Regions from separate parts of the Homo sapiens genome. Here region 1 is linked to region 2. The links come from fine-mapping of genetic effects on gene expression. A gene starts in region 2. The other region holds a variant in brackets. All regions are shown on one strand. Distances are from middle to middle.

Region 1 (14,014 bases), 170 kb after region 2:
CGCCAGTTGGCCCTTTGAGCTACCTATGAATTGGAGACCTCCATGTGTGGTAAAAACAAGATAAACATATTTTCACATCATTTATATCATATTCAAAGATAAAGAGAATTTCACTTTGGAAGGAAAAACAGTAGATAGAAAAGAAAGACACAAGCTTAAAAATCATCTTATTGAGACAATGAGCATGGTTAAAACTTTAGTTTTTATTCCAAGCTTTTCAGTGATTTTTCTGTGCATATATAAATAAATCATTTATTCTAAAATAAAAAATGACACAGTTCTATTATCTCATGATAAAGAAATGATAACAATACTCTAGAAATTTAAGAAATACTGATCGGTAATGTCAGAGCCTGTGGGTTTGGGGCAACCCCTTAAAGGTGCTGTTACTTCATGTGACTGCAGTGGCGCTGCCCTGTGTGCATCAGGAAGCTTCAACATATTATAGTTGTTTGTTTGTAGGTTTGTTTATTATGATATACAGATTATCTCATACCTTCCTTTCGATTTTTTAAAATTTTAAAACAGATTTACTGCCATGGCTGGAACTAATCAACACTAATTTTTCTATTGTATCTGTATATATATATGTATGTATGTATATTCACACACATGTATAATGTACCTTTTAAAAAATAGATTTAGGGGCTACAAGTACAGTTTTAATGTACTCTTTTAACCATTTTTAAATGTACAGTTCAGTGGCATTAATTACATTCATGCCATTATGCAGCCATCACTGCTATTTCCAAAACTTTTTCATCAGCCCCAACAGAAACTCTTAAGCAGTAACCATTAAGCAGTGAGTTTTCTTTTATTAGTTACCTTGATGGCGGTAACCTCTAATCTTGTTTTCTGTCTCTATGAAGTTGCCTAAATCAATAATAATTTTACAATATATTTTTTAACTACGTATGCTGCTTTTGAGATTTTGATGTCCTATCATCTCCTTTTGCAATCACCAAAAATATTCCCCTGCCAGCCCCCGCAACACATTTCTCCTTTCTCACCATTGCAGATAGAAATTACCGTGGAAAACTCTAGATGTCTGCGGAATTATCATTAGCCAACTTCATCACTTGTATTGTAGTTTTATTTAATGAATGACATATTTTTTAAAAAGATTTATATATGACTCTTATCTATAACTTTAATAATATGCAATTTTAATACTAAGGATTATTAATTTTGGGAATCTATTTTAAATTATTTTATGAGAACATATTCAATAATAGCATTTATGAGCTTGTGGAGTTTTAAAGGTCATAGGGCATATCCAATGAAAATGTCAATGATCTTATATAACTCTGAGATAGATGTTTGCTTCAACATAATATTATAAATTTCCAAGAATGATTTTCTCAAAATATGGAGTAGGGACAGGGACCATATAGAAGATTTCATAATATGGGAGATTACATCACAGTGAGGTTTTTTAAAAAAAAAAAAACAGATATTTCCCTAAATTCACTGCCAACATTAATTATCGCATTATGAGTGTTCCAATGTTCTTGATATTGTCATTTAATTCCTGATTGTATCAACCTTCAGTTAAAGGGGTCTTTTCTTCCCTTCCCTTCCCTAACTTTCCTTTCCTTTACTTCCCCATCATGCTCTCCCTTCCTCTTTCCCTTCTCATTTCTTTTTTCTTTTTTTCAAAGCAATGAATTGTGAGGTAATCTCAATGAAATTCAAATGATCAGAAATGACAGTTAAGTTGAGATTCTCAATCTTTTTTTTCTTCAAATTCAAAATGAGAAATTTGGTAGAATTGTTATACTTTACTTAATCACTGAAAGTTATAAATTAATTTTTGTTTCAAATATGTAAATAAAAACTATACTTGTAACTCGTTTAAATTTCCATGTTCAGTATTATGTTTAAATGTAGTTTGATGTCATAGTATTTCTTTCCCTAAGGTTCGATTATCATTGATTATATCATACTACAATCATAATATTCCTCTGCCTATAAGATTGAACATTTAGGGGATATTAAAGTTTGTGTGCGTGTGTTTTTTTTACCTCAGATATAGATGAATGCTCTGAGAACATGTGTGCTCAGCTTTGTGTCAATTACCCTGGAGGTTACACTTGCTATTGTGATGGGAAGAAAGGATTCAAACTTGCCCAAGATCAGAAGAGTTGTGAGGTAAACATTTTACAATGCTTAACTTCTCACCTGTTTTCTAAAATGAGAGATCCTAGATACTTATTTTCACATAGCTAAGTCAGGAAAATACAGACGTTCTGCAATAATTGCTGTAGCTTTAAGCAGGTTATGAGTCATGATTATTTACTAATTATGGTCATGTAAGTCATAAACATTGGGGATAATTAGTGGCTGGGTTTAAAAAAAAGAGGGTAGAGTCACAGTTTAGAGAGTACTTATCTGTAGTCTGTACATTTATAAAATACAACTTGTATGTTTACTTAAGAAATCAAGAAAAGCTGAGTTTAATAGCCCTCATTGTGAAAAAAAATCTCTCATAGAAACTTCAGTGAAAACATTTTCCAGTGTCTACTTTTCTGGATTCCACTCTGACTAGTTTGATCATGCCTTAGGCGTTATAGGGTTTATAAAGTGCTCATAAAATTTCAGAGGGTACAAGTGCAGTTTTAATGTACCCTTTTAACCATTTCTAGGATTTAGTGGGGTTTAAGTATATCATAATTCAGAGAGGTTGATTTCTTAATCTGTGTCTCTCAAACTTGCTTTTAATTACTTAGATTTAATGCATAATTGACCCAGGAATTGAATATTGGGGGTAGGTGCTCATTTTTACTTCATTGAAATAAATGTCACCATCTGAGCTCTTTTTTTCCTGCATCTTTTTTTGACAAGTGAAGGTAAAATTATATATTATTATGAGGCAGACCATAAAAAATGCCTAAATAATGATTTAACTAAGTATACATACATACCTCTATAGCTGTTGCCAAAACAAAGCTGTATATGTCCAGAAAAATGTCACATTCAATAATATGCAACCTACTTGGTAATAAGCTAGTTGGCATTTGTTGTAATTTTGGTACGTTACTACTTAATTGAAATGCCATGCTGTGTGAACATCTATTTTGTAATTTAGTCCTTTATTATTTCTGTATTTGGTGTAGTTACATATCACCGTCTGCCTTGAAATAGATTTATTAAAGTTTTAAGGGGAAATAAAATGTTATTTCTGGGCCTATATTTAATATAGTGCTATGTACGTAATTCTCCTCAAAATATCCTCATATGTGTTCAATAATTTGTATGTTAAAAGCTTTTCATTTTAATGTTTGTTTTCACTCGTAGAAAAAAAATACTTGATACCATATGTGATGACTTTAAATAATGTTCTTGTAAATTCCTTGGAGACTATGAGATCTGAATTTATATTTATTTCCTTCATGTTTTCCAGTATTCCCTTTACTATCTAGATAGCACATTCTTGCTCAGAAAACTTTTGCTTAATAAATGAATGAGTGAATGAATGAGGTGCTGTTTATTGGTACATTAATTCTTACACCTATTTCTGACTTCAAATAAAAATAATTTTCAGACATAATTCATGGGAGATAATATACCTGACTGTTAATTAAAGAAATATATATTGGTTCTTGAAGAAAGAGTTTGTGTTTAGGACGAAAATTTGCAAAGGAAGTATTAAAGACAAAGATCGAAAGCCATGCACATTGAACGAGGCTTTAAAACACATGTATTCTTGGAGGTTATACTGATAGATAGACTATACAAGGAAATGGAAGATATGTATTTATTATTACCAAAAATATTCTTAATTATTTTAGTGTATTACAGATGATACATTAGTAACCAAACAAAAATGCATGACCTCACACAAACATTAAGCAATAACCTGTGCATTTTGATTTTCTTGTTGTTTATTTGGTTTCTTTTATTCCAGGTTGTTTCAGTGTGCCTTCCCTTGAACCTTGACACAAAGTATGAATTACTTTACTTGGCGGAGCAGTTTGCAGGGGTTGTTTTATATTTAAAATTTCGTTTGCCAGAAATCAGCAGGTGAGGAACCAATACCAATGATAATTTCTAGAGGTTAAGCAGATAAGGGCAGAAGAAAAGTGGCCGAAAAGGTTTGAAGTGTGTGAAATTGTATTACCTATCAGATAATGTAGTCATATTACCAATCAGATGACTTGGGGAAACCTAAAGTTAATTTACTCCTTCACACATGTAATTTTCATCCTAAAACCTTTTTGAGTCATTCTAGGCTGACTTTCCCCAATGAACATTTTACATTATTCCATATTATTCCTTTTGTAGAAAATGCATATTTACTAAGAAGCTGGGAAAGTAGATTTAATGTACTTGTGAAATTTCCATTATTCTTTACACATGTTATGAAAACCAGGTAATAAAAAATACTCAGTATTGCTTTTAGAATATCATTATATTCAAAATTATTAAGGAAAAAATTTAAACTTGCTTAAGTGGCATTTTAAAGACATATATTACATAATTTTAGTTGGCTGTCTAAATACTTTATCCATTATTATCGTACTTAGATTGAGTTCAGAAATGAAGTAAATGCTTATGTTTTTTAGTCATGATTCCACTTATTTTTATAGCAATGTTTATGATCCAATTTTTATTTTATTATATTTATTTATTTTTGAGACAGAGTCTTGCTTTGTTCCCCAGGCTGGAGTGCAGTGGCGCAATCTCGGCTCACTGCAACCTTCGCCTCCCAGGTCAAGCAATTCTCCTGCTTCAGCCTTCTGAGTAGCTAGGACTACAGGTGTGAGCTGCCACACCCAGCTAATTTTTGTATTTTTAGTAGAGACAGAGTTTTACCACGTTGCCCAGGGTTGTCTCAAACTCCTGACCTCAGGTGATCACCTCAGGTGATCTGCCATAATTGTACTTCAGTTATCAGATTTTCTCAGAAGCATACATTGCTGGAAGTAGAAGAAAGAAATTGGATTTTTTTTGGAATAATGAGAAGGCAAAATACTTGAGACAGATTATACAGTTCAAATTTTAAAATATTTTAATTAAATAAGCATGTATGTTTAGAACTTGATGTTAGATACATGAATGATTATTCATTAAATAATTCAACTAAATTCATAGACGTTATTAAAAACATTGAAAATTATTCTAAGATCAATAACTTACATAAATACTTAAGTAACAGTGCTCCTTCCACACTTTATTTCTGCCAATATGTGGTTTTTTCCTTTAACATCACAGAGCAACTAATATCTTCTAATGATAGAGATTGGAGAAAACTCTTCCCTGCTATGAGAATAATAATGAGAGAAAAATATTAGTTCTAGTAAATAACACTTTTAGGAATACAATTGATCCTCCAAATCCTTGAGTTCCTCATCTGTGGATTTAACCAACCTCGGGTAGATAATATTCAGAAAAAAACACAATGACAATACAATACAAAATAATACAAATGAGACACAATACAGTATGACAACTATTTACATACATTTGCATTGTATTGAGTATTATACATAATGTAGAGACGACTTAAAGTACGTGAGAGGATGTGCATAGGTTATATGCAAATACTATGCCATTCTATATAAGGGACTTGAGCATCTGTGGATATTGATACCATCCAGAGGTCCTGGAGCCAATCTCCAGGAGTTTGTTCATTTCTCACTGACGATTCATAGTAGTTTGATCTCTAACATGGGATCAGAATTGGACAAATTATTTTTTCCAGAATTTATTATTTATTTATTTTAAACTTTTCATTGAAATATAAAGTATGTACCGATATGTACACATTAGATTAAATGTATAGCTTGATGAATTTTTATAAACTGCCCCTTGTGTGATCAACACAAAGAATAGCTAGTGCTTTTATTTATTTTTGCAAATTTCTTGACGTCTGTTGCTCATGATCAAATACTTTCCCTCCGTAAATGTCAACAAATTCATTCTATTTTCCTGTTTACCATGCTTGTGAAAAAGAATGAATTGTTCCCCATTGTAATGAATCAATATGCTGCTGATATATTCCAGAAACAAAATATGCAGAACATGACCCTTTGAAACTATGATTTCAGCCTGATTTTACAAAGAAAAGGAAATTATCTCCATAATAGAATCAACTGCTGGAAGATCCTGAGCATACACAGATT[T/C]GGATTTTGGCAAGATAATATTGCTTCACATCAGCAAAATGCTCAGATAATTATGAAAGAGCATAGAAGTCCTTATTCCAAGCAAAATTGTTCTTTTTTTCATAATCTGAGTTCAGTAAATTCCTACTACATTGTTATCCATCCAACATACTTTACTCCACATTTTACCTCTTTTTAAATATTTCTTTGGAATTCTAAAGATGAAAACATTCATTTTGTCACCTTTTCTTTGTTCCATTTGAGGGAGATACGTGCCCCATTGCAAATGGTGCCTCTATTACTATTACTATTTTACTATATTGCGGTAAGAGTGTGGGATTCTGTCCTGCCTAATATAGCAATTATCTGAAGTCCAGACTCTTTAACTTAAATTGCCTTTATTTTAAGTTAGGTGACTAATAGTTATACACCTATTGTTCCTTTTCCCTGTTTGTCTTTCGTCAATCATGTGGATTTGCTAGTCCCTTGGAAACTTCAATGCTGATTCTCATTGAAGTGTTTTAAGGATACTGAATCAACACATGTTATTTTAAGTCCTGCATCCTAAGACTTTTCTCCCCTGTAATAGCTACATATATGTCTAGAGTCTTAATAGCAACAGATGTTGCCAGCACTCAGATACCCCCCAAACACATGGGTAGACTATGTCTTTTAAGTTTTCCTTCTGTGTATTCTACAACAGTGACTTATGCAACTGGAGTTTTAGGAAAGCTAATAGATATATTTTAAGTTTTTAAATTTTACCTTTCTTACCACACATGAAGGCTTAATGATGTCTGCAGTCATCCATGTGCCATCTTGTAGATCTCCACGAGTGATTCCTGACATGTGAAATTATAGGGAAAATATGCCTTTTGATGAATAAACCAACGATGAAATTGTAACACATTTTATGATCACTTATGGATACAGCAAAAACAAAAACAAACAAAAAAGAACAACAACAAAAAAAACTACCACTTCTTAATGTCAGATTATATAGTGTATAAAAGGCTCCAGGAGAGATATAGTATGCCTGATACTTATACCTGTGTATTAATTTCAGCATTTGGAAGGTGCTATCAAAATATATGTCAAAGAAAGATGACAAATTACCAAAGCATCTGTTCCCTGGGGAAAAGATTCCAAGAATAAGCAAGAAAATATAATAACTTAATTTTAAACGTACATGGAACCAGAGATAATACATGAGCAGTCTAATTCTGCCCTTCTCTTTTATTAATTCCAGAAAAAGAAATAAATAATTGACTCTTTGTCTGTGTTACTGTTTGTCAGTACAAGAAAAAAAGAATAATGCATTGAGCTTTCTGTATTTCTTACTCTTAAGGATCTCTCTTTGTCCATTGTTTAGATTTTCAGCAGAATTTGATTTCCGGACATATGATTCAGAAGGCGTGATACTGTACGCAGAATCTATCGATCACTCAGCGTGGCTCCTGATTGCACTTCGTGGTGGAAAGATTGAAGTTCAGCTTAAGAATGAACATACATCCAAAATCACAACTGGAGGTGATGTTATTAATAATGGTCTATGGAATATGGTACGTTTGCAGATTTCATCAATATCTTCCCACTTTGATGCAGTCTGTATAAAATCATAATTTATTTTTATAGTGATACCAAACCAAAATGGATTTGGAGTTATCTGATGCTATATGAGGTATATTCTACATACTGTAAATCCCTGAAGCATCCTGAGAAATAATATTCTCACTTAATATATTAGAATCATTGTTTTTAGTTATTTGCTTGAACTACTCTGTCTTTAACTTTTTACCTTTTTTAGTTGCTGTTTGGTGAACAGTGGTGTTAGGGACTATTAGGAGGCCTAACATTTTTTTTTTTTTTTGAGACAGAGTTTTGCTCTTGTTGCCCAGGCTGGAGTGCAGTGGCGTGATCTCAGCTCACTGCAACCTCCACCTCCCAGGTTCAAGTGATTCTCCTGTTTTGGCCTCTCGAGTAGCTGGGATTACAGGCATGCGCCACCATGCCCGGCTAATTTTGTGTTTTTAGTAGAGACGGGGTTTCTCCGTGTTGGTCCAGCTGGTCTCGAACTCCAGACCTCAGGTGATCCACTTGCCTTGGCCTCCCAAAGTCCTGGGATTACAGATGTGAGCCACCGCGGCTAGCATATTTTTTTTTTTTGAGACAGTCTCACTCTGTCTGCCCAGGCTGGAGTGCCGTGGCATGGTCTTGCCTCACTGCAACCTCCACCTACTAGGTTCAAGAGATTCTTGTGCCTCACCCTCCTGAGTAGCTGGGATTACAGGTGTGCAACAGCATACCTGGCTAATTTTTGTAATTTTAGTAGAGACAGGTTTTCACCATGTTGGCAAGGCTGGTCTCAAACTCCTGGGCTCAAGCTATTCACCCACTTCGGCCTCCCAAAGTGCTGGGATTACAAGAGTGAGCAACCACACCCGGCTGGCATAACAATTTATGCAAAGACAACACTGATCAAGGAAAACTCCTCAATTGCCAACAATATTTTTTAAAGTAAGGAGAAATAAACATAGTAACAAGTCTAAAAAGGTAATTCAAATTCAAATATAAGCAGATAGATAAGTAATCCTTAAAAAAAAATAGACACAGGGTCTTGCTATGTTGCCCAGGCTGGTCTTGAACTCAAGGAATCCTCCTCCCACTTTGGCTTCCCAAAGTGCTGGGATTACAGGCATGAGCCATTGTACCGGACCTAGTTGTCAGTTTTTGTGCAAATGATATACATTAGCAGGTACCAGTGTGCTTAGAAATCAGCATTTTAGGCTGGGCGCAGTGGCTCATGCCTGTAATCCCAGCTCTTTAGGAGGCCAAGGCAGGTGGATCACCTGAGATCAGGAGTTCGAGAGCAGCCTGACCAACATGGCGAAACCCCATCTCTATTAAAAATACAAAAATTAGTCAGGCTTGGTGGCGCACGCCTGCAATCCCAGCAGGAGAATCATTTAAACCCAGGAGGCGGAGGTTGCAGTGAGCCGAGATCACGCCACTGCACTCCAGCCTGGGTGACAAAGCAAGACTGTCTCAAAAATAAAAAGAAAGAAAGAAAGAAAAGAAATTAGCATTTTAATTTAATCCTACATATAGCCTTTAATCTAATGATCAAGAATAGCACTTTAATCAACTGGATTAAAGTGGGACTTTTCTGAAGGGATTACTGCTAGTTGATAGTGGGGAGAAGTCTTTTCTGAAGTATAGAGTCATTGCTGCCATCAGCAGAGGATAGCTGAGAGAAGATTGGCTTCACCTTAGAATGTGGTGCACAAAAGAGACATCTTTTATGCCTAGAGGAGCTGGCAAGAAGTTTGTGCTGATCTCAATTTATTTATTTATGTTATTTATTTATTTATCATCACTATTATTACTATTATTTTGAGACGGAGTCTTGCTCTGTCACCCAGGCTGGAGTGCAGTGATCTCTGCTCACTGCAACTTCTACCTCCTGGGTTCAGGTGATTCTCTTGTCTCAGCCTCTCGAGTAGCTGGGACTATCAGTGCCTGACACCATGCCCAGGTAGTTTTTGTATTTTTAGTAGAGACAGGTTTCACCATGTTGGCCAGGCTGGTCCTGAACTTCAGACCTCAGGTGATCAATTCTCCTCAGCCTCCCAAAGTGCAGGGATTACAGGTGTGAGCCACTGCACCCAGACAAGAAGTTTGTATTGAGAAGTCATGTGAGGTCATCACTAAATTATTTTGGTCCTTCATTTATGCAGACATGCACTCATTTATTCAGTAAGCTTTTAGTGAGTGCTTTTGATGCTAAGTTCCTGAGTTCAAGGCATTAGAACTATAGCATATCGGGGAAACCTGCCCCCAATATTTCATTGTAGGGTCTTTCTATTTTCCATAAGTGTCGGCTGGCTGAGAAATAAAGAGAAAGAGTACAAAGAGAGAAATTTTACAGCTGGGCCTCCAGGGGTGACATCACATATCGATAGGACTGTGATGCCCACCTGAGCCACAAAACCAGCAAGTTTTTATTAAGGATTTCAAAAGGGGAGAGGGTGTAAGAACAGGGAGTAGGTCACAAAGATCACATGCTTCAAAGTGCAAAAAGGAGACCAAAGATCACATGCTTCTGAGGAAACAGGACAAGGGCAAAATCAGAAACTACTGATAAAGAGTCCAACAAAGACCACAAGCCAAAGGGCAAAAGCAGAATTATTGATAAGGGTCTATGTTCAGCGGTGCACGTATTGTCTTGATAAACATCTTAAACAACAGAAAACAGGTTTTGAGAGCAGAGAACTGGTCTGACCTCAAATTTACCAGGGTGGGGTTTTTTCCCCACCCTAATAAGCCTGAGGGTACTGCAGGAGACCCGGGCGTATTTCAGTCCTTATCCCAACTGCATAAGACAGACACTGCCAGAGCGGCCATTTATAGACCTCCTCCCAGGAATGCATTCCTTCCCCAGGGTATTAATTATTAATATTCTTTGCTAGGAAAAGAATTTAGCAATATCTTCCCTACTTGCAGGTCCGTTTGTAGGCTCTCTGCAAGAAGAAAAATATGGCTCTATTTTGCCCGACCCTGCACGCAGTCAGACCTTATGGTTGTCTTCCCTTGTTCCCTAAAATCGCTGTTATTCTGTTCTTTTTCAAGGTGCACTGATTTCATATTGTTAAACACACATGTTTTACAATCAATTTGTACAGTTAACACAGTTGTGATCCTGAGGTGATGTAGATCCTCAGCTTATGAAGATAACAGGATTAAGAGATTAAAGTAAGACAGGTGTAAGAAATTATGAGTATTATTTGAAAACTAATAAATGTCCATGAAATCTTCACAATTTATGTTCCTCTGCTGTGGCTCCATCCAGTCCCTCCATTCGGGGTCCCTGACTTCCCGCAACAATAGCAAGAGATTTTCCTTGCTCTAGAGCTTAGTACCTCACAGATAAGTAGCTGATGCTTCTTTGGGAAATAATATAATGTAACATGAAATACATTACATTAGAGGTACAAACAAAGCACACTTGGGCAAACGTGGTGAATTTATAAATGATTACATCTTATCTTTGATTATGAGTCTAATATTAATAGGAATTTTAATTGTAAATGTATCATAATTCATTCAGCAAAATATTTATTGGCACTTCTATGTGCTAATCCTTATTCTAGGTGGTAAAGATACAACAGCAAATAAAAAAAAGTCAGTGCTCTTATGGAGCTTGCGTTCTAATGGTGAGACGCAAACAACAAATGCATGAAAAAATAAATATGCCAGATAGTTATTCATGTTATAAGGAAAAAGAAAAGCCAGACAAAGACATAGAGAGTAATGGTGGTTAGTATGCATATAGAATCAGGAAAGGCATCTCTGATGAGATTAGATCTGAGCTGAGACTTGAGAGCACATGTCATGAGAAATAAATGAGGGAATATAAAAAGATTCTGTACCATGTAAACAGCAAGTACAGAATTTCTTGGAATAGGATGTGTTTGGTATTTGAGGAATAACACAGAGTAGTGTAGCAGCAGGGGAGAGTAGTTAGAAAATGAGGTTAGAAACGTGGTCTAGAATAAGATCATCTAGGGCCTTGGAGGCCATGATGAGGATGTGGATTTTATGCTAAATTGAAAGGCCCTGGATGGTTTTGAGAAGGGACATGATCTAGTTTGCATTTTAAAAGATAATCCCAATCAGAAGCTAATGGCTTTGTGGAAACCAGAAGTGGAGAATGAGTGTATAACAGGATATGGGGATATGGAGTTAGGAGACTGTTGGAATAACCCAGCGGAGAGAAGATGACAGTTTGACTGGTGTGCTGATGGTAAGAGTGGTAAGAAGTGGTCAGATTCTGGATATATTTTTGAAGTTAAGCCTTCAATTAAAATTTTTGAATACTCAGCATAAAGAGGGGTTTTAAGGCCATGAAACTGTTTGTGTTGACCAGTGGTTCCAAACACTATCTCATCCAATGTCTGAAAATATATAATGCTCCTTTACTATTCTATAATGAAATGTATCAGTAATATAAACTACCTTCACATATACCCAATCAAAACCAAAATAATTCTGTCATTATTATATTAATATGGATAAATAAAAGGAAAGTAATTTATAAGAAAATAATATGTATTTCAATATATACGTAGTCAACTATAACTATAACACTTGTCAAAGCTTGCTTCTATGCATAAAGTAAAAGCTACAAATGAAGACTAATGCTGGGGTGTTAAATTAGCAACTCAAGTACCATTAAGGGCATACATGGTGTTGCCATTGGTAATATTAATTTTCCAAAGTGGTGGGAAGTTCCTGGTAAAGATATGAACAAAACAAATATCAATCTATCCTTAGTTGTCAAGATTATTACATTCTTGAAAAATGTAATGAATGCTAAAATAGTGCAGCAAATATTTTGTGTCTATGTATGCACAAACTCAGATGATTGTAAGCATGAATATTCCCTACATGAATACCTAGCAGTGATGTTCAAAAGATTTTAAGAATACTTGATATTTTATTATTAGTTCTGCATTACTTATTATTATTAATTCTGCATGACTAGCCTATGTACATAATGCAGATTGTCTATCATCTTGCAGTGCCAGCATGGCCCCTACTCATTGTGACAAATAAAAGTGTTCCTCACCTCCAAATTTTCCAAATGCCCTGGAGTGGAGTCATAGTGTCTCACTTAAAATACTTGCATGGCTACAGGAAAAAGGTCTGGGGCCTGAGCTGTGGGGAGGGGAGGATCCAGCAAAGGAGACTGAGAAGTAGTGGTTAGAGTGTAGAAAGAGAAGCAATCAGGGTCAAGTGTTGTAGGCTAAGTTAAGAAAGTCTGTAAAGGAGAGAATAGTTGTTCACATGCTGCTAATTGGCTATATTAAAGAAGGAGTGTTGACCAACTTTAAATTTGTGTAACTAAATTTATTTTATGTTGGAGGATAGTTTTTCCCTTCCTATCATGGTGTTTTAATATGCTTATTGTTTGGCTTATATTATTGGTTAGTGAGTGAAGAGTTTGCTCTTTGAGTGCTATAGTTTTACTTGAAGTGATTGCAGCAGTGGTTCTTCAAATTGCCTTTGTAGAAGGAATTTTTATTGTTGTTTACCCTTACTTGAAACCTTTTTTAAAAACCCAAACAACTCTCAAAATTGGAAAACTCCAATTTAATTTTATGTATTTTTTTCTTATTGCCTCAATCACTTTTGAATTTTAAAGAAAAAATAATTTGTGTGCAATTAACAGAATAGTGAACATATTGATTTTTCTTACTTTATATTAAGAACTTATGGGCCGGGCGCGGTGGCTCACGCCTGTAATCCCAGCACTTTGGGAGGCCAAGGCGGGTGGATCATGAGGTCAGGAGATCGAGACCATCCTGGCTAACAAGGTGAAACCCCGTCTCTACTAAAAATACAAAAAATTAGCCGGGCGCAGTGGCGGGCGCCTGTAGTCCCAGCTACTCGGGAGGCTGAGGCAGGAGAATGGCGTGAACCCGGGAAGCGGAGCTTGCAGTGAGCCGAGATTGCGCCACTGCAGTCCGCAGTCTGGCCTGGGCGACAGAGCGAGACTCCGTCTCAAAAAAAAAAAAAAAAAAAGAACTTATTTACACTATTGATTCCATGTGCGTATTATCAGACAATTGCAAAATAAGGCCACTTAAATTTTTCCTAAGATAGAATGGCTCACTTAATTGTTAATTTTCTAGCAGCCTGGAATTGAAAGATATATAACTGGATGTTTAAGCTTAACAGAATAGTATTTTTTTTAACTTTAAAATATGGTATGCTTTTAATTTTTGATCGTGCTGCCACCCTAAATGCCTTTTTATCACATTTATCATAATTTGACATTCCAAATGAGTTGTAACAAATTAATAATTACATTAAAATGATTACTTTACAGAAGTATTTTATTGGAATAA
Region 2 (16,576 bases):
GAGGGGAACATCACACATCAGGGCCTGTCGGGTGGTGAGGGGCTGGGGGACAGATAGCATTAGGAGAAATACCTAATGTAGGTGATGGGTTGATGGGTGCAGCAAACCACCATGGCATGGGTATACCTATGTAAGAAAACTGCACATTCTGCACATGTACCTCAGAACTTAAAGTATAATAATAAAAAAAAAAGAGAAGAACTTATTGCAGACTGAGGCAGAACTCTTCAGAAATTACTCTATCTCATTCTTTAGTGACTAGACAAAATAAGGCCTAAATAGAACAAACGAAATTTTTGATCTTTCATGATCTACACCCAACCCTACTGAACTATACAGATTTCTTCTAACAAGTTTCTTTAAAATTTACTGATCTCCACATGCCCGGCCCCCAACCTCCCTGAATAACCTTTCCTCTCTCACCTATCTGTTCTCAACTTAGGGAGTTTTCTCTCTCCAACGAAGTCTTTCCACTTACCACCCGGTTCACATCCTCCACCATACTCTGATATCATTATTAATAAATGTTACTGACTGGATGTGTACAATGTTCATTTTGCATGTTTATATCATAGAACCATCACAACAACCTTGAGAGAGGCAGCTCTTACTCCTATTTTAGAGGTTAACTGAGGCTTTTAGAGATTTTGGCAACTTACCTGAGGTCACATTGCTAGTACGCAGAAGTATCTGATTCAAAATCAGACTGACTTTAAAGTCTAACAGAAGTGATTCCCAACGTGTGAGACCCTGGTACTACAGCACAGAGCTACAAAAGGGGGCAAGAAAGAGAATTTTACCCCAACCCTCACTTAGTGCAAGTGGCCATGACCTCCCTGAAACCCTCTTCTGTCTAACAATGAAATCAGCTTGCCACATCCTGCCTATAGAAGCAGCTGCAACAGACCAACTCTTGAAGGGACTGCTAAGGCTGCTCAGGCTGGTGCTTCCTAGCCCTGAGAAAGCAAAGCTGTGTATTAATATGATTCTTACAGTTCCCCTTGCACACACCTGCCACTGACCTCCATTCTCCTCCCCACAACACACACACATACAACCCCTCCTGTGCCTGCACTGGGTGGGTTGCTAACCTGGGGCTGGAGGGAAAGTGGCTTCCGAATCCAAAGCTTTTATGGATGGGCAAGTAGCTTAGCAGGCAGTAGAGGGAATGTATGTTAGATGACTCTAGAAAACAGCGGCCAGGTGCCACACTCCAGGCCTTTTCCCAAGATTCACAGTTAGTCTGAAGCGGCTCCATTTACTGGTCTTCCAGGTGAGAAGAAGTGCAAGTACCTCAGTAGCCAGCAGAACTGGAGACATACAAGGTCAGTGACCTGCAAATTTGCTAGTGCACCACTGATATCATTTTGAAAAAAAACACATTTTAAGTTGACATTAAAATCTCACCATATGTTTAAAGGATGCAATTTCCAGCATACTGTAAAAATTGACATTTTAAAATACAAATTATACTGCCTTTAGTATGTGCCCAGTGGAAACTAAATATCATAATGATTTTGATACCCATCATCATCCATTTAAAAATTCATAGACTGACTCATCTTTAACAGGTGGAAATTTTATGCTGCTCGTTTTCCTCTTTTATTTACATTCTACTTCATATAACTTCATCTTAATATATTTTCATGCTTGAAATCTTTTTATCACCCTATCATGCTTCTCTAGCCCCCACATATACACATGTGTATGTACTAAATTTGTTTTTCCTGTGGTCTTAAATCTCTAAGTGTTAAAATGGTAACTTCTGGATTCAGGGATCAATAATATTATTAGTACAAAACCGATCAAAACAACTTATAAAAGTAAAAATTGGTAAGAAATGGATACTTAATGAAATGAGCTTTTGTTTCCATATATCCATAAATGAATATTACTTCTTACTATAATAAAATCAGTCAGGATTCAACATCATTTTTATGCCTATTTTGTGTTTTTTATAAAAGCTGAGAAAAACCTTCAGTTAAATAAGTGGATGAGAATTAAATATATTTTGTTATAGCAATGTTTCTTACTTTGAATTCTTTTGGAGTTATATCCCCAAATCACTTAGCAACCTATCATCAAAAATGTCTTAAATGAATTGATAGCTGACATCTCAATCAAGGCTCCTTTACTTTTGTTGAAAGCAAAACTTGGAAACCACCTGACTTGTCAGAGAATCTGTTAGTCATTTGCTTTCTCACACTGACACTCCAATAGTTTCTGGCATATGGAGGTTTTGAATACCTGGAGGAACATAGCATAGAAGCCAGAATGGTGCAAGTGTGCCTTTCTTTTTGTGAAAAGGGTGAAGGGAAATTGGAGAAAGGCAGGTTGGGAAAGGAGAATATGTGCCCCCTTATGTACAGAGGGGCAGAGTAATTTTCTGAAAGAGAATACATGAAAGTTGAGGATGTGAAAACTGACTGCGGTCACTTGCCTGAGCCTACATACCCCCTTGAAAAGTCTTTCTATTTCTCACTCATTGTTGCTCCTCCCTCCAACATGCTAAGTCTGTTTTGTCTTCTTTTTTTTAGAGACAAGGTCTCACTCTGTCACCCAGGCTGGCGTACAGCTGTGCGATCATGGCTCAGTGAAGCCTCGACCTCCTGGACTCAAGCGATCCTCCTACCTCAGTCTCCCAAGTAGTTGCGCCTACAGGCACGCACCACCACACCCAGCTAATTGCTTATTTTTTCTAGAGATGAGGTCTTGCTATATTGCCCATGCTGGTCTTGAACTCTTGTCCTCAAGCAATCTTCCCGCCCTCAAGCAAATCTCCTGCCTTGGCCTCCCAAAGTGCTGGAATTACAGGTGTGAGCCATCGTATATTATCTTCTTGTCAACATTCATTCATTCTCTAAAAATACACCGTCTGTCAACTATAGGCTAGGCACATCTATTTACTGATAATGATATAAAATAAGCTTAAATTCCTAAGAAACAAAAGAAAAATAAATTCCTAAGAAACAAAAGAAAAATTCCTAAGAAACAAAAGAAAAATATTAAAACTGACCAAAAAAAAATTAAGTAAAACTAGACAGATGGTACACAAGAATAACTGAATTTTGAGAAACAGTTAATGAAGCTAAACTAATATATCACACTGTGTGTCACCCTGCCTGCTTACCCATTTCCCTAACTCATTTATATGGGAGCCTTGACTTATTTTTCTCCTTGGCTAAGTGCCTGGGGCCTAAATCCTGGAGTAAATGAATAAAATTGGAGTTCTGATTCAAGGCTCTCTGAACTACTTACTATTTTAACAAAATTAAAGCATTAAAAAATTAAAAGCTAGTTAAGTTAAAATTTTGCAAAACTGTATAATGTATCATTTCGATAATGTTTATTATTTGATAGTATAATTTTCATTCAACTTTTCTGTGACTTTATTCTTTTTTCCTACTACTCTACTCTCCACCCTACCTTCCGTCCTAGTGACGAAGATGAAAAATATCATTTAATCTAGAAATTGTTAAACACAATTAATATAACCCTGTAGATTACAGAACCTATTTAAATTTCCATAGCTAAAAAAGAGAAATTCCTTGATTTAGTGCTATTATTATCCACTAGAGGGTGCTCATTCAACTCTTTTAAAAGTTAGAAATGAAAAACAAATCAATTTATGGAAATGCACCAAAGTATGTTTTTGAGTCATTTTATTTTTACTCCTCAGAGATGCTAACGAAGAGCTGATGGCTTCCTATTCTATTTTGGCAATGGATCTTCCTTGTATCTCACAGAAGGGCAATTTATGTCCAGATTTGTTATTCACTGTACCTCAGATAGGAAATCCTTTGCGTTTCTGGTGGAACATCAAAAGGCTAAAAATCCTGAACATAAGAGTCCTTCATACTACGGGATCTGAGCATACATTTGGAAGGATGCAACTCTGGACCCTTCACAGCAGCACAGATGGTATAGGAAAAGGCGTGGACTTTTAAGTCACAGGACTGAATTTGCCACAACTACAAGATACCTATCAATTGTTCTAACCTCTGACTTTAAAGTGTCTAAAAGTTACTTCTTCACAGAGATTTGCACAGATTAAGGCTGAAAATGTGTGTAAAGCCAACATATAGGACAATATAGAAATCTAGATACTGGTTCATTTCTCTCTTTCTTAACCACCTCAGTCTACATCCTTCACAGATTATGGTAATATTATCAGGTTGTGTGTGTGTATGTGTGTGTGTGTGTGTGTGTGTATTTTTTTTTCCTCTCTGTATGTGAACTCTCGGTCAGTGAGGAGAGTGTCCAAAAAAAAAAAGATGTTGCAGACAGTTCAGACTTATATGGTCTGTTTGTTTTGCTTTCTATAAAGTACATGTAAAATTTCCACAGTTAATAAATATTTCTAATTAATGCTTATATTAATCATACATTTATTAAGTATCCATTAATTATCCAATTAATCATACATGTATTTGAGGGCAGGATATATACAGTCCATTTTTGTATTCTCAGTGCTTAGCACAATGCCTAGTACACAAACACTGACAAAACTGGGAATAAGCAGAAGACTTGCCCAAGTCTCAAGGTATTGGTTCTTCAAAACCCTCCCTTGTCAGGAAAAAGATAAGCAAGTTAGTAAATTATGACGATAAAACCTTGAAAGAATCACAATAGCTCTATCAACAAAATGCAATGGATACACGAAGGGCAAAACTAATTTTGCCAAGGGACATACAGAAGGCTTGATGAAGTGGTTAATCATAGTAACAAAAATAATGCTAATGCATATGAAGTCCTTACTATACGTCAAACAACATTCCATTCACATTGTATATACACAAATTCATTTTATCTTCCCAAATGATTATATGAAATAGATACTATTTTTTCCCCATTTTACAGACGAGGACAATGGAGCACAGAGATATTAACTCACCTAGGTCATATGCTACAAGATGCAGAGGTGGGATTTGAACCCACACTACTGCACAGAGGGAGAAGGGAAAAAGGCATTCCTAGCAGAAGAACAGCATAGCCAGTCCCAAAGGCATGAAGGAGCCTGCCCAGAAAGATAAGATTTTTAGTCCAAACATAATACTGCAGACTTCTGGGGAGCAAAGGTTTGTACTCAAGGTGTGACACAATGGAATTTGGTAGCACCGAGAAACAGCATGACAGAGTGGGTACAACAAACTCTCAAGGCTCTTCAAAGTGTTAGATGTGTATACTTGGGCAAGTTAAAGTGTGAGATGTGTATACTTGGGCAAGTTACTTAACCTCTGTGTGCCTCAGCTTTCCTATATATAAATGGAAATAACTATTTCAGAGGGTTGTACATAGGATTGTTATTATTCATAAAGTGATTACAACATTGACTGGTACATAGTGCCATAAAAGTGGTTGCTAAAATAAGCAAACAGGTAAGTACTAAACATGGCTGTTGCAATATGCCAGATAAGAGATTGGGAAGGTCTAAGTGAATGGCAGCAGTAGAGAATTTTTTTAAAAAGATCCAAATTAAAAGGGGGCAGGGTAGTTGAGTCTCAAAGACAACTCTCACTTCTGACACCAATTACAAGTTCAGGGATTCCAAGGATGACTCTCAGGTTTGATTATTCACTGGGACACAACCGAACTCACTGAAAGCTGTTATAATCACAGTTATAGTCACAGTTTATTATAATGAAAGCATACAGATTAAAAACAATCACAGGAAGAGACTCATAGTGCAGAATTCACAACAATTCAAAGCATGAAGCTTCCAGCTGTCCTCTCCAACGGAATCATCAACGAGGTCAACTTTTGCTGGCAGTAATGTATGACAGTATGCACAAGAGTATTGCCAACCAGGGACACTCACCAAAGCCTTGGTATCCACTTTTTATTGGGGCTTGGTCACGTATATATGATTGACTGTCCATACAGCTTTTAGTCACAAGCCCTTCTGGATGTTGAGTTGACACCTGTGGTCCCCAGGCCTCAACATAAATCACATCGTTAGATTATCAGGTGTGACCTCAACACCCAGGTAAACAAAGACACACTTATCAGGAAGCACATTCCAAGGGCTTAGAGATCGCCTCCCAGGAGCTGAGGGCAGTTGCCAGACCTATTTTTATATAAGGTTCATTTTTTACTACAAAGGTAGTGAAGGTATAGAGAAGAAAGGAGGAAACCAGACTGATGGTGATACACTTAATTGAGATAAAATATGCAGGTAGCAAAGGCAACATAAGTTTGAAAGGGAAAAATAATAATACACTTTTGAGTTTGCCAAGTAACTGAAGTTGCTAAAAAACAGAAGTATGGGACTAAATCTTAGGAAGAACCTCACAGCTTGAGATGACAGCATACTGATAAAAGTCATGCCATGAATGGGCTTACCTGAGGAGAACATGGAGGCAACAAATAGAGCAAGAATTGAACCAGGGTAAACTCCAATTTTAAAGGGCTGCTCAGAGGATGACTAGACAAGAAAGGTTACTAAAAAAGAGCAAAACTAAATACTAAATCTTCCTCACTACTACAGGAAACTAAAAATATTGAATAAATTACTTTCTAAATAGGCCAAAAAAAGAGCACTTGACTTTCCCTGGAAGTAGACTCTACAAGTACATTATGTCTTGCAAACAAGCAGTTAAAACACAAAATATTTCATTCTGTTCTTATTTCCCCATACCATCTTCCATGCTCAGACTACTTCCTAAGCTGAGAAACCTTTATTTTGCCTATGGCAAATTTAGTGTGTGTTTATGCAAAACTTAAATTACCACAAAAACCCCACAATAGGGTAAATGAAGCAGAAGGCACAGCTAATTAAATGGATTTGAGGTTCATTGCTCATTTTGCTCAGGGTCAAATAATAGTATATGACTTTCTGAGTACACTAAGTAGAAAAATAAGTCATTATAGGATATGAGTAGCCAGACTGCTACAAAGTCTACAGAAAAAAAAAAAGCCTCTTGAAATCTTTTTTTTTTTTAAATCACATCCCAGATATGAGACAGTACAGAACAAGGATGAGCTGTGGGAGTTATTGAGTCAGACAACCCAGGCACAAGCCTCAGCTCTGCCACTTATTAGCTGAGTGAACTTGGGCAAATTACTTAAACTCTTAACGGGTTTGTTCTGAGGATCATGTAAGTCAGTATTGTCTGGCATATAGTAAACATGCAATAAGTGTTTGGTTATTTGGATACTCTATTTGAGTACCTTTGTATACTGAAAACCTCATAAATTTATTACATACTTTATTATTCAGTTCTTCATCTCTGTGACAGAAAATACCCATTTGAAAATCTACTTTTGAAATAAAACCCACGAGTATAAACGGTTTGCATATTACAGCATTTACCAATTTCTATAACAGCTTAATTGTCCTAAAATTATCTCAGAATCACCTCAGACTTTGTGATCTTTATTAGCCAAAACTTAATTTGTTTTAGAAAATGCTCAGAACTGCCCTTTGTAAAGGAGAAATGCTTAAGAGTTGATCCAAGAAAAAAATGGACAAGCCAACCATCTGAAAAATTAGTCTGGACCAAGTTCCAGATAATATCTGTAGCCATGCAACTTTTTTTCCTCATGCAACATGTAGTGGGCTTTTGCCCTAACTTCATGAACAGTGCACCTTCTTCCCTCAACCTAGGAGGCCTAGTTCTTTTTGTCAAAGTAACTCCTCTAAGTCACCAAGACCCAGCTTCCCTTCAGGCCTTTGCTGGCACCCTCAGGCTTTGTTAGATACTTGGATCACAGTATTTACAAATTAGTTTATATAGTTGTAACCACACCCATCTCCTCACTTCTCCCATTAACACTAACTAGACGGCATGTAAACTGGACATGCAGACTGTCTTGCTCTGTATTCCAGAGAGGGTTATATAGTGTATCAGGCACTCAATGTCAAGAACCCATACAGTAATCCATACATTAACATCATCTTACCAAACAGACAAATCACATTTCTCCCACTTCCATGCATTAAACATTCCTTATTTTTATATTTAAATAATTTTGTGTGTATATGCACGTGTTCAAAATATACCCAGCCATCGACATAGGAAAGAAATATGATTACCAAATAAAGTGTACCTTTGGCTGAGATAAAGCAGTGCTGGCTTTAAAGATTTGTTGTATTATCTTCTAAATTTCAGAAATCAGTCAAATATTCCAAATTTTATGTTTTTTTCTTTTACAGTATAATTAATTTTGTCAAACTAGTGGGCATTCCTATTTCAAGGATCAAAGTAATTGCTCAAAGCAAAGGCGTAACAATTTGTGCTTACCATCCCGACAAAGTTTTATTTCCCCTTTCCAACATGCTATGATTCATTCTATTTCTTCTTAGTTGTTCCTTTCTATAGCTTCAGTAGGAAAAGGCAACCAGATTTAGATTCCTTTGCCTTTTAACCTCACAGCATCCCTCCCACAAAAAGGAGGACTACATATTGTACTTTGTTCCATCATAAAGCATCGAGATGAATTATACTAACCTTACTGTATTCCAGGCATCTCCGAGTTCTTTGGAATACTGTTTTTCAAAATGATCCAACACAACTTTGCAAATCTGTTTTGCAAGCTTCCCCTCTGATTTTGCTTTCAGCTATGACGATAAGAAAAAGTTGCTGACACACAGTGATATTACAAATTTACTGAACGTCAACATTAGCAAGGTCTTTTTTTAAGACAAGAACACTTTTTTTGGATAATTACTAGTTCTTGAAATGGAAGCAATACCTTACATGTACCAAAACTGTACATTATCTAATTATGAAAAAGCAAGGTTTTTCCAAATAATTATTTTCCAAATGTGAAGCAAAGGTTAAAACAGAATCTACTGGGGCTGAAGAAACTGTCAAAAGGAACAAAATTAATTTTAAAAAGTCACTGTAGGGGCTAGGCAGGTGGCTCACACCTGTAATCCCAGCACTGTGGGAGGCAGAGGCGGGAGGATCACATGAGGTCTGGAGTTCAAGACCAGGTTGGCCAACACGGGAAACCCGTCTCTACTAAAAATACAAAAATTAGCCGAGAGTAGTGGTGGGCGCCTGTAACCCCACCTACTCAGGGGGCTGAGGTGGGAGAATCGCTTGAACTCAGGAGGTGGAGGTTGCAGTGAGCCGAGATCGCGCCACTGTACTCCAGCTGGCTCATGCTTTGCAGGGACGAGGCGAGAGGATCATTTCCCAGTTCAAGACCAGACTGGAAAACATATCAAGGACGTGTCTCTACAAAAAGTAAAAAAAAAAAAAAAATTAGCCAGGCGTAGTGGCCTGCTCCTGTAGTCCTAGCTACTAGGGAGGCTGAGGCTGGAGGATCGCTTGAACCCAGGAGTTCAAGGTTACAGTGAGCTATGATGGAGCAGCTGCATTCCAGATTGGGTGACAGAGCAAGAACTTGTATCTAAACAAAACTAAAAAGTCACCGGGGATGCTGACATCAAGAAAAATTGGTGAAAGGTATTTGAGAACTCTGTACTATCTTTGCAACGTTATTTTAAAGTGAAAAGTTAATTTAGGGAGAAAAGTCACTCCAATTTCATCGTGAACTTCCTTGCAATTGTTTCATTTATTCATCCAAGAAACGTGTATTCAATGCCTACTATGTAACAGACACTGTTCTAAGCTCCCGGGATACCGCTGTGACACAGAAAACAAATCTCAGCCCTCCAAGAGCTGGAGGGAGTGGGTACTAGAAGTCTGCGAGCTGGACGGAAGGGACTCAGCATTACAGCACTCAGCATTATTTCAGGGCTTGACAGTAAAGCCAAAGAAACGCTGATCTCGCGAGGGGACGAACAAAGGTGATGTTCCCCCATCCCAGCACCCTCCCTCGCCACCTCGGCCGCGTCCAGAAGCGTCTCATTCAGATAGAGGTACCCAGCCGGGCCCCAGGTCTCACCTGGGTCAGCATTGTCCCGCTGAGAGCTTTCAAACAACAGGTGTACGCGAATCAGTATCAAAAAGCCTCCAGGGAACTGAAAAAAACAGTCTGACTTCCGGGATTCGCGGGCATCCACTTTCATTCTCACGTTTCCTCTTCAATTTCTCGCGAGATACTGATTTGCTCGCGCTATAGAATTCTTGTCGAAGAGGCTTAGCTCCCGCGGGAGATTTCGTGCGCAGTTACTTCCGGTAGCTGGTAAAGGCTGATACTTCCCAGGACGCGGAGGTAACGGGCCAGGGCCAAAGCGACTTTCGCTACTTGGATTGGTCGGCGTAGCTTTGGGCGGCCGGACCTTAGAAAGTCACACATCTGCGCGCCTGTGCGGCCCCTGCTTCTGCGGATGCTGAGGTGGGAGGATCGCTTGGGCAGAAGTTTGAGGTTGCAGTGACCCGTGATCGCGCCACTGCACTGCAGCGTGGGCGACAGAGCGAGGCTTTGTCTCAAAAATAAATAAAAAGTCGCATATTGTGCTGAACAGTGTGTATATGCATGGGGCTCAATAAAGGAATGAGTTTTGGGGTTATGTTGTATGATGACTGATTTAAAATATTCTCAAAGCGAAGCTAGTTACTGACTTAATCTACCAAATCTAGTGACCCCTGTTAACCTAGACATTCAGTACCCAAGGATAAAAGGGTGGAATATAATGAAAAAGAAATTAAGTCATGCTTTTCCCCAGACCTGGCCCATGGGGATAATCTCTCCTTTTAATGGAGAGTGTTAAACTGAAGTAGGCATGTAAAGCGGTTACAACAGTGATTAGGAAACAGTAAATGCCCAAATGTTAGCTGCTATTATTTTCACTATTGTGATCATTGTGATTTTTGTCGCGTTGATACCAAATGCGTGAAGACCAAAAGGACCCTCCACTCTAGCCTCCCCAATTCACCTTTACAAGGGAGCAATGTTTAATGGTTCTCCAAGGAAGATGTTTATTACACCTATTTTGACACGAATAGAAGTTTATTTGCTCTTTTGGTGTCATGCTTCAGTAACTATCATTTGTAGCAGCAATCAGCAATTAGAAAAAACCGGTTTGATATGGTCCCTGATAGTTAATAATCATCATTTTGAGTTGTTCCTTGATGCTCATATCAATATACGTACATGCTATAGGTACAAGTCTTATATTCATGTAAAAACATGTCTTTCCTTCTAATCTGATTTGAAGCTTAATATATTTATTTATTTAAACAAGTTTCCAAGTCACCTAAAAAATGCATCTTATTAGAATTTAGATTTGGTACAAAAGACTATGATAATCAGGAATGAAATGATGCCATCTCTTGGATGCCGTCTGTTTAATGTTTGTGGAAAAGTCGGTCTAACCTTTCAGCCTCTGTATTTTTTATAATTTTATAAATTTATATTTTATAAATATTTTATAAATTTATACTTTATAAATATATTTTATATAATTTATTTTTCTATGTTCATTCCAGAATGTTGCAATTAATTAATACAGTGGTATTGTATTTGCAATGTAGGCACGTAAAAAAATTTGAAGAAGGGAATTTCGCGGCATTCTTGGCCTGGCTTCCTGGCGTAGCCAGCAAGTTCGGAGGTGTTAACCGCTGCTGTCATGTTTCTTTTGCTAAACTGCATCGTCGCTGTGTCCCAAAACATGGGCATCGGCAAGAACGGGGACCTGCCCAGGCCGCCGCTCAGGAATGAATTCAGGTATTTCCAGAGAATGACCACAACTTCTTCAGTAGAGGGTAAACAGAATCTGGTGATTATGGGTAGGAAGACCTGGTTCTCCATTCCTGAGAAGAATCGACCTTTAAAGGATAGAATTAATTTAGTTCTCAGCAGAGAACTCAAGGAACCTCCACAAGGAGCTCATTTTCTTGCCAGAAGTTTGGATGATGCCTTAAAACTTACTGAACGACCAGAATTAGCAAATAAAGTAGACATGATTTGGATAGTTGGTGGCAGTTCTGTTTATAAGGAAGCCATGAATCACCTAGGCCATCTTAAACTATTTGTGACAAGGATCATGCAGGACTTTGAAAGTGACACGTTTTTTTCAGAAATTGACTTGGAGAAATATAAACTTCTGCCTGAATACCCAGGTGTTCTCTCTGATGTCCAGGAGGGGAAACACATCAAGTACAAATTTGAAGTATGTGAGAAGGATGATTAATATGAAGGTGTTTTCTGGTTTAAGTTGTTCCCCCTCCCTCTGAGAAAAGTATGCATTTTTACATTAGAAAAGGGACTTTTGTTGACTTCAGATCTATGGATAATTATTTCTAAGCAACGTGTTTTTATTCCTCACTAATCTTGGCTATATCAGATACCATTTATGAAACATTCTTGCTATAACTGTCTCTCCAAGACCCCGACTGAGTCCCCAGCACCTGCTACAGTGAGCTGCCATTCCACACCCATCACATGTGGCACTCTTGCCACTCCTTGACATTGTCAGGCTTTTCTAATGTTGGTAGTATTTATTAAAGATGAAGATGCACATACCCTTCAGCTGAGCAGTTTCACTAGTAGGAAATACCAAAAGCTTCGTACATGTATATCCAGAGGTTTGTAGACAAATGTTGCAGCCTTTTTTGTAACAGTGAAAAACTGAAAACAACCTGGAAGTCCAGTGATGGGAAAATGAATATATTTCTGTCTTAGATTGGGGAACCCAAAGCAGATTCCAAGACTGAAATTTAAGTGAAAGCAGTTTATTTGCTAGGTCATACCAGAAGTCATCAATCGAAGTATGGAGAAATGGAACTGAGAAGGTAAAAACCAGTTCAAAATCAGTGAGGAGGTTCTCAATGGTAACGAGCTCCATACTGCTGAGATACAGGGAAACGGAGGGGAGAAAGCTAGAGTATTTAACCCCCACTCCTTGGTTGTCAGCTCCCTGTCCTGTGTGTGGGCAGAACGTACTCCACCTACTCAATAGCAAGTTCCAGGTGTTTGCTGAAAGAAGCTGCTGTAATGTACGGGAACGGTGAATGCCAAACACTTAAAGCAATTCCATGTTTAAGTATGTAAACTCTTCATACTTTTTTTTTTTTTTCTTTTTAAGACAGAATTTCACTCTTGTTGCCCAGGCGGAGTGCAATGGAACAACCTTGGCTCACGGCAACTTCAGCCTTCCCAGGTTCAAGCAATTCTCCTGCCTCAGGCTCCTGGGTGGCTGGGACTACAGGCGCGTGCCACCACGCCAGGCTAATTTTGTATTTTTGGTGGGGACATTCCATGTTGGTCAGGCTAGTCTCGAACTCCTGACCTCAGGTGATCCTCCTGCCTCGGCCTTCAGGGGTGCTGGGATTACAGGCATCAGCCACTGCACTTGGCAGATCTTCATTCTTTTAGTAAAAAGTATAAAGCCACACATGGTTTATTTGAAATATTTTATAATTTAAAAAAGTACAGAAGCAGGAAAACCAATTCTAGGTTCAAGTGAGGGATGATGGTAGTTTGAACCAAAGGATTGCATGTGGTAAGAAATTGTGATTTAAGATATATTTTAAAGTTGGAAGTAGCAGGATATTCTGATGGAGTTTGACTTTGGTTTTGGGCCCACTGAGTTTGAGATGCCTTTGAGAAATGAAAGAAGTAGAGAGAGAATTAAAAACTGGCCAGGAGTGGTGGCTCACGCCTGTGGTCCCAGCACTTTGGGGGGCTGAGGTGGGTGGATCACCTGAGACCAGCTTGGGCAACATGGTGGAGCCCTGTCTCTACAGAAGATACAAAAATTGGCTGGGCATTGTGGCACACACCTGTAGTCTCGTCTACTCACGGGGCTGAGATGGAGGATTCAATTGAGCCCATGAGTTCAAGGCTGCAGTGAGTCGTGATTTTGCCACTGCACTCCTGCCTGGGTGACAGAAGAGACCCTGTCTCAAAAAAGAATCTGAAAACAACGGAACCATGCCTTCAGAATTCTATAAAGTTATTTTCAACTGATAAATCTATATTCAGGCAAAGAATCAAGGGTGAAGGTAAAATAATACATTTTTAGACAAGCAAAGACTCAGGGGTTACATGTACCCTTTCTTGGGAAGCTATCGGAGAAAATACTCCAGCAAAATGAAGGCGTACACAAACCAGAGAATGACGTGGATCCAGCAAATAGTATCCAACACAGGCAATATTCCAGCTATGGAGCTAGCTTTAAAAAGAAACAGTAAAAATACTAATAGATTAGCTGGGTGGGATGGCCCATGCTTGTAGTCCCAGCTACTCAGGAGGCTAAGCAAAAGGATGGCTTGAGCCCAAGAGTTCAGAGCAGCCTGGCCACCATAGTGAGATCCCTTCTCTTAAAAATAATAGGTTATTGCCAGATTTGGGGCATTTGGAAAGAAGTGCATTGAAGATAAAGCAAAAGTAAAAAAAAAAAAAAACAAAAAAAAACAAGGGGGAAGGGTTGGTTAGGCAATAATTAATTCTAGGGCAGGAAGAAGTACAGGATAGGAAGTAAGAGCATCATACGCTGTTTTTCTCAACAATGGGCAATATGTACATAGTCATAATGATGTGGTGACTGACTGCTTAGCCCCTAAATCTGGTAACTACTTTGGGACAATATGGGGGGAAAAGTGAAGATAGTGATGGTGTAAGAGCTAAATCCTCATCTGTCATATCAAGAAATCACTATATAATGTATAACATAATCAAGAAATGACTAAGTAGTTATGTGAAGAAAAGAATGGAACATTGCTAGAAGAGTTAGAAGTCATTGCTCCAGAGAATTAGGAGGGATGGGGCAGGGGACTGTTAGGATGCATTATAAACTGAAGAGGCTTTTAAAGATTACATGTATTAATATATGTATTCACTTGAAAAACTAAAAAAATAGTAATTTTTTAAAACCCATGGAGGTAACTACCAGAAGGAAAAACTAAGAGAATGAAAAGTGCTTTCCTCTGGAAAGAACAAGTCGCAGGACTGTTTTCATTGTAAGACTTTTGGAGCCATTTGATTTTACTTAACCATTTTCATATATTTCTTTAATAAAAATAATTCTATCTTAATAAAAAGTTACACTCATTCATTAAAAAAAGAATTTTAAGACTGTAATAAGAATCATAGTTTATTTCTGTTAGAGAAAGGCAATGTGTTATACTTGGAAAGAGGTCATATTAATTTTATCACATTTTTGGGACTCAGCATCTTTATATTTTCTGATTTTAAATAAACAACTTTGCTTATGAATTTTGTCTGAATCTCTAATAATCTCCTTATAATGCCTAGTTAATTATGCCCTTAGTTTGGGTAGGTTTTCAAATCTTATTAGTTATTTCTTTTTTAGATTACCGCTCATGTCCACTTATCTATAGGTGTCTTAGTATCATTTTATTTATATTTGAGATAACCATGTCAGATGTTAAAACACTTTCTCAATTTTTCTTATAACCATTTGACTTTAAGTGTGAAGGTATTTTAAAATTTTTTTTGTGCATTGTAAATTGAGTTTATTGATTCCACTGCTTTCAGGCTTATACATTTTTTCCCCGAGTGAAGCCACTTCTGTTTCTCCCCTTACCTTTTCATAGTTTGATCTTTTATGTTTAACCTCTTAATCTATCTAGAATCAATATATGTGTATCATGAGAATGTTAATGGATTTTACTCCCCATCCGCACCCCAAATAGCTACCAAAGAACAAACAATTCTACATTGAGTTTTAGGAATAAAAACTGTTAGCAGCAAACTTGAATTAAACCACTGCAGACATAAGACATTGAGCTGACACAAATAACATAAATCACATTAGTTTGTTTTTTGTGCTTTTTTTAATGTTAGCGTTAAAGAACCAAGCAGCTTAATAAGGACGTACCTCTAGGCAGGAAACAAATTTTTACATATCTAAGCAATTTTATTATAAGGTCAGTTGGTCTTAAGAAGTATTTCAGAGTAATTTATGGAATAACTCCTAAACTATGTTTTATGAATTTTCATATTTATATAAAATGTGTCAAAACCCTTCATGTTCATATAGAGGTTTATGTTGTCAAAAAGGTAAGGAGACGCTTTGTAGTAAAACAATATGACATCAAGAGAGCCCTGAGCTCCTTAAAATATATGGCAGAAAAACAACAGGAAAACACAACAGGAAACCTGTGATCAATGCTACAGAACACAGCATAGTTATAGGCAATCTTAGGCTTAAACGTCAGGTGAGATTCTCATTTTACTAAATTTCAGGGCTCCAATGTGGTCTGTACAAACTCCAGCAGACAATCCACTGTGTCTAGGAAGTAAATATAATGACTTTTATTTTTATTAAGCTTTATGTAGTCTTTTAAAATTTCTTTTTTTAGGGAAGTGTATTTAAAATGTACATAGTGCAGTAGAACAAGTATGTTAACTGTTATGGGCTGAAATTTGTCCCCCCAAAATTCACGTTGATGCCTTAACCCCCAGTACCTCAGAATGTGACTATATTTGGAGATGGGCCTTTACAAAGTTAAGTTATAAGAAGTCATAAAAAGAGGAAAATCGAACACACAGAGACAGTGGGGGTGGGTGGAGAAAAAAGGCCACGTGGGGACACAAGACAGTGTCTATCTATCAGGCAAGGAGGGGCCTCAGGAGAAAGCAAACCCACCAACTTGCTCTCAGACTACCAGTCCCCAGAACTGAGAAAATAAATTTCTGTTGTTTAAGCAACTTGTCTGTGATACTTTGTTATGGCCACCCTAGCAAACTAATA

Evidence for each region.
Region 1: its variant is fine-mapped to the expression of DHFR2 in whole blood (TOPMed, PIP 0.98).

What each region holds. Positions count from the first base shown.
Region 1 is chr3:93,886,585-93,900,598 of GRCh38, reverse strand. PROS1 (protein S) reads left to right here. Exons shown (of 15, transcript NM_000313.4): 8 at 2,030-2,151; 9 at 3,908-4,023; 10 at 7,477-7,666. Among named protein-coding and RNA genes, the nearest start is that of PROS1, 80 kb to the left of the region's middle. The variant T/C (reference allele first, on the strand shown) is at 6,126.
Region 2 is chr3:94,056,421-94,072,996 of GRCh38, reverse strand. It overlaps DHFR2 (dihydrofolate reductase 2), which reads left to right and starts at 10,081. Exons shown (of 2, transcript NM_176815.5): 1 at 10,081-10,251; 2 at 11,391-15,075. The coding sequence starts at 11,486. The coding sequence ends at 12,049. It overlaps NSUN3 (NOP2/Sun RNA methyltransferase 3), which reads right to left and starts at 9,936. Exons shown (of 6, transcript NM_022072.5): 1 at 9,859-9,936; 2 at 8,451-8,560. The coding sequence starts at 9,870. RefSeq lists an enhancer at 9,803-10,042.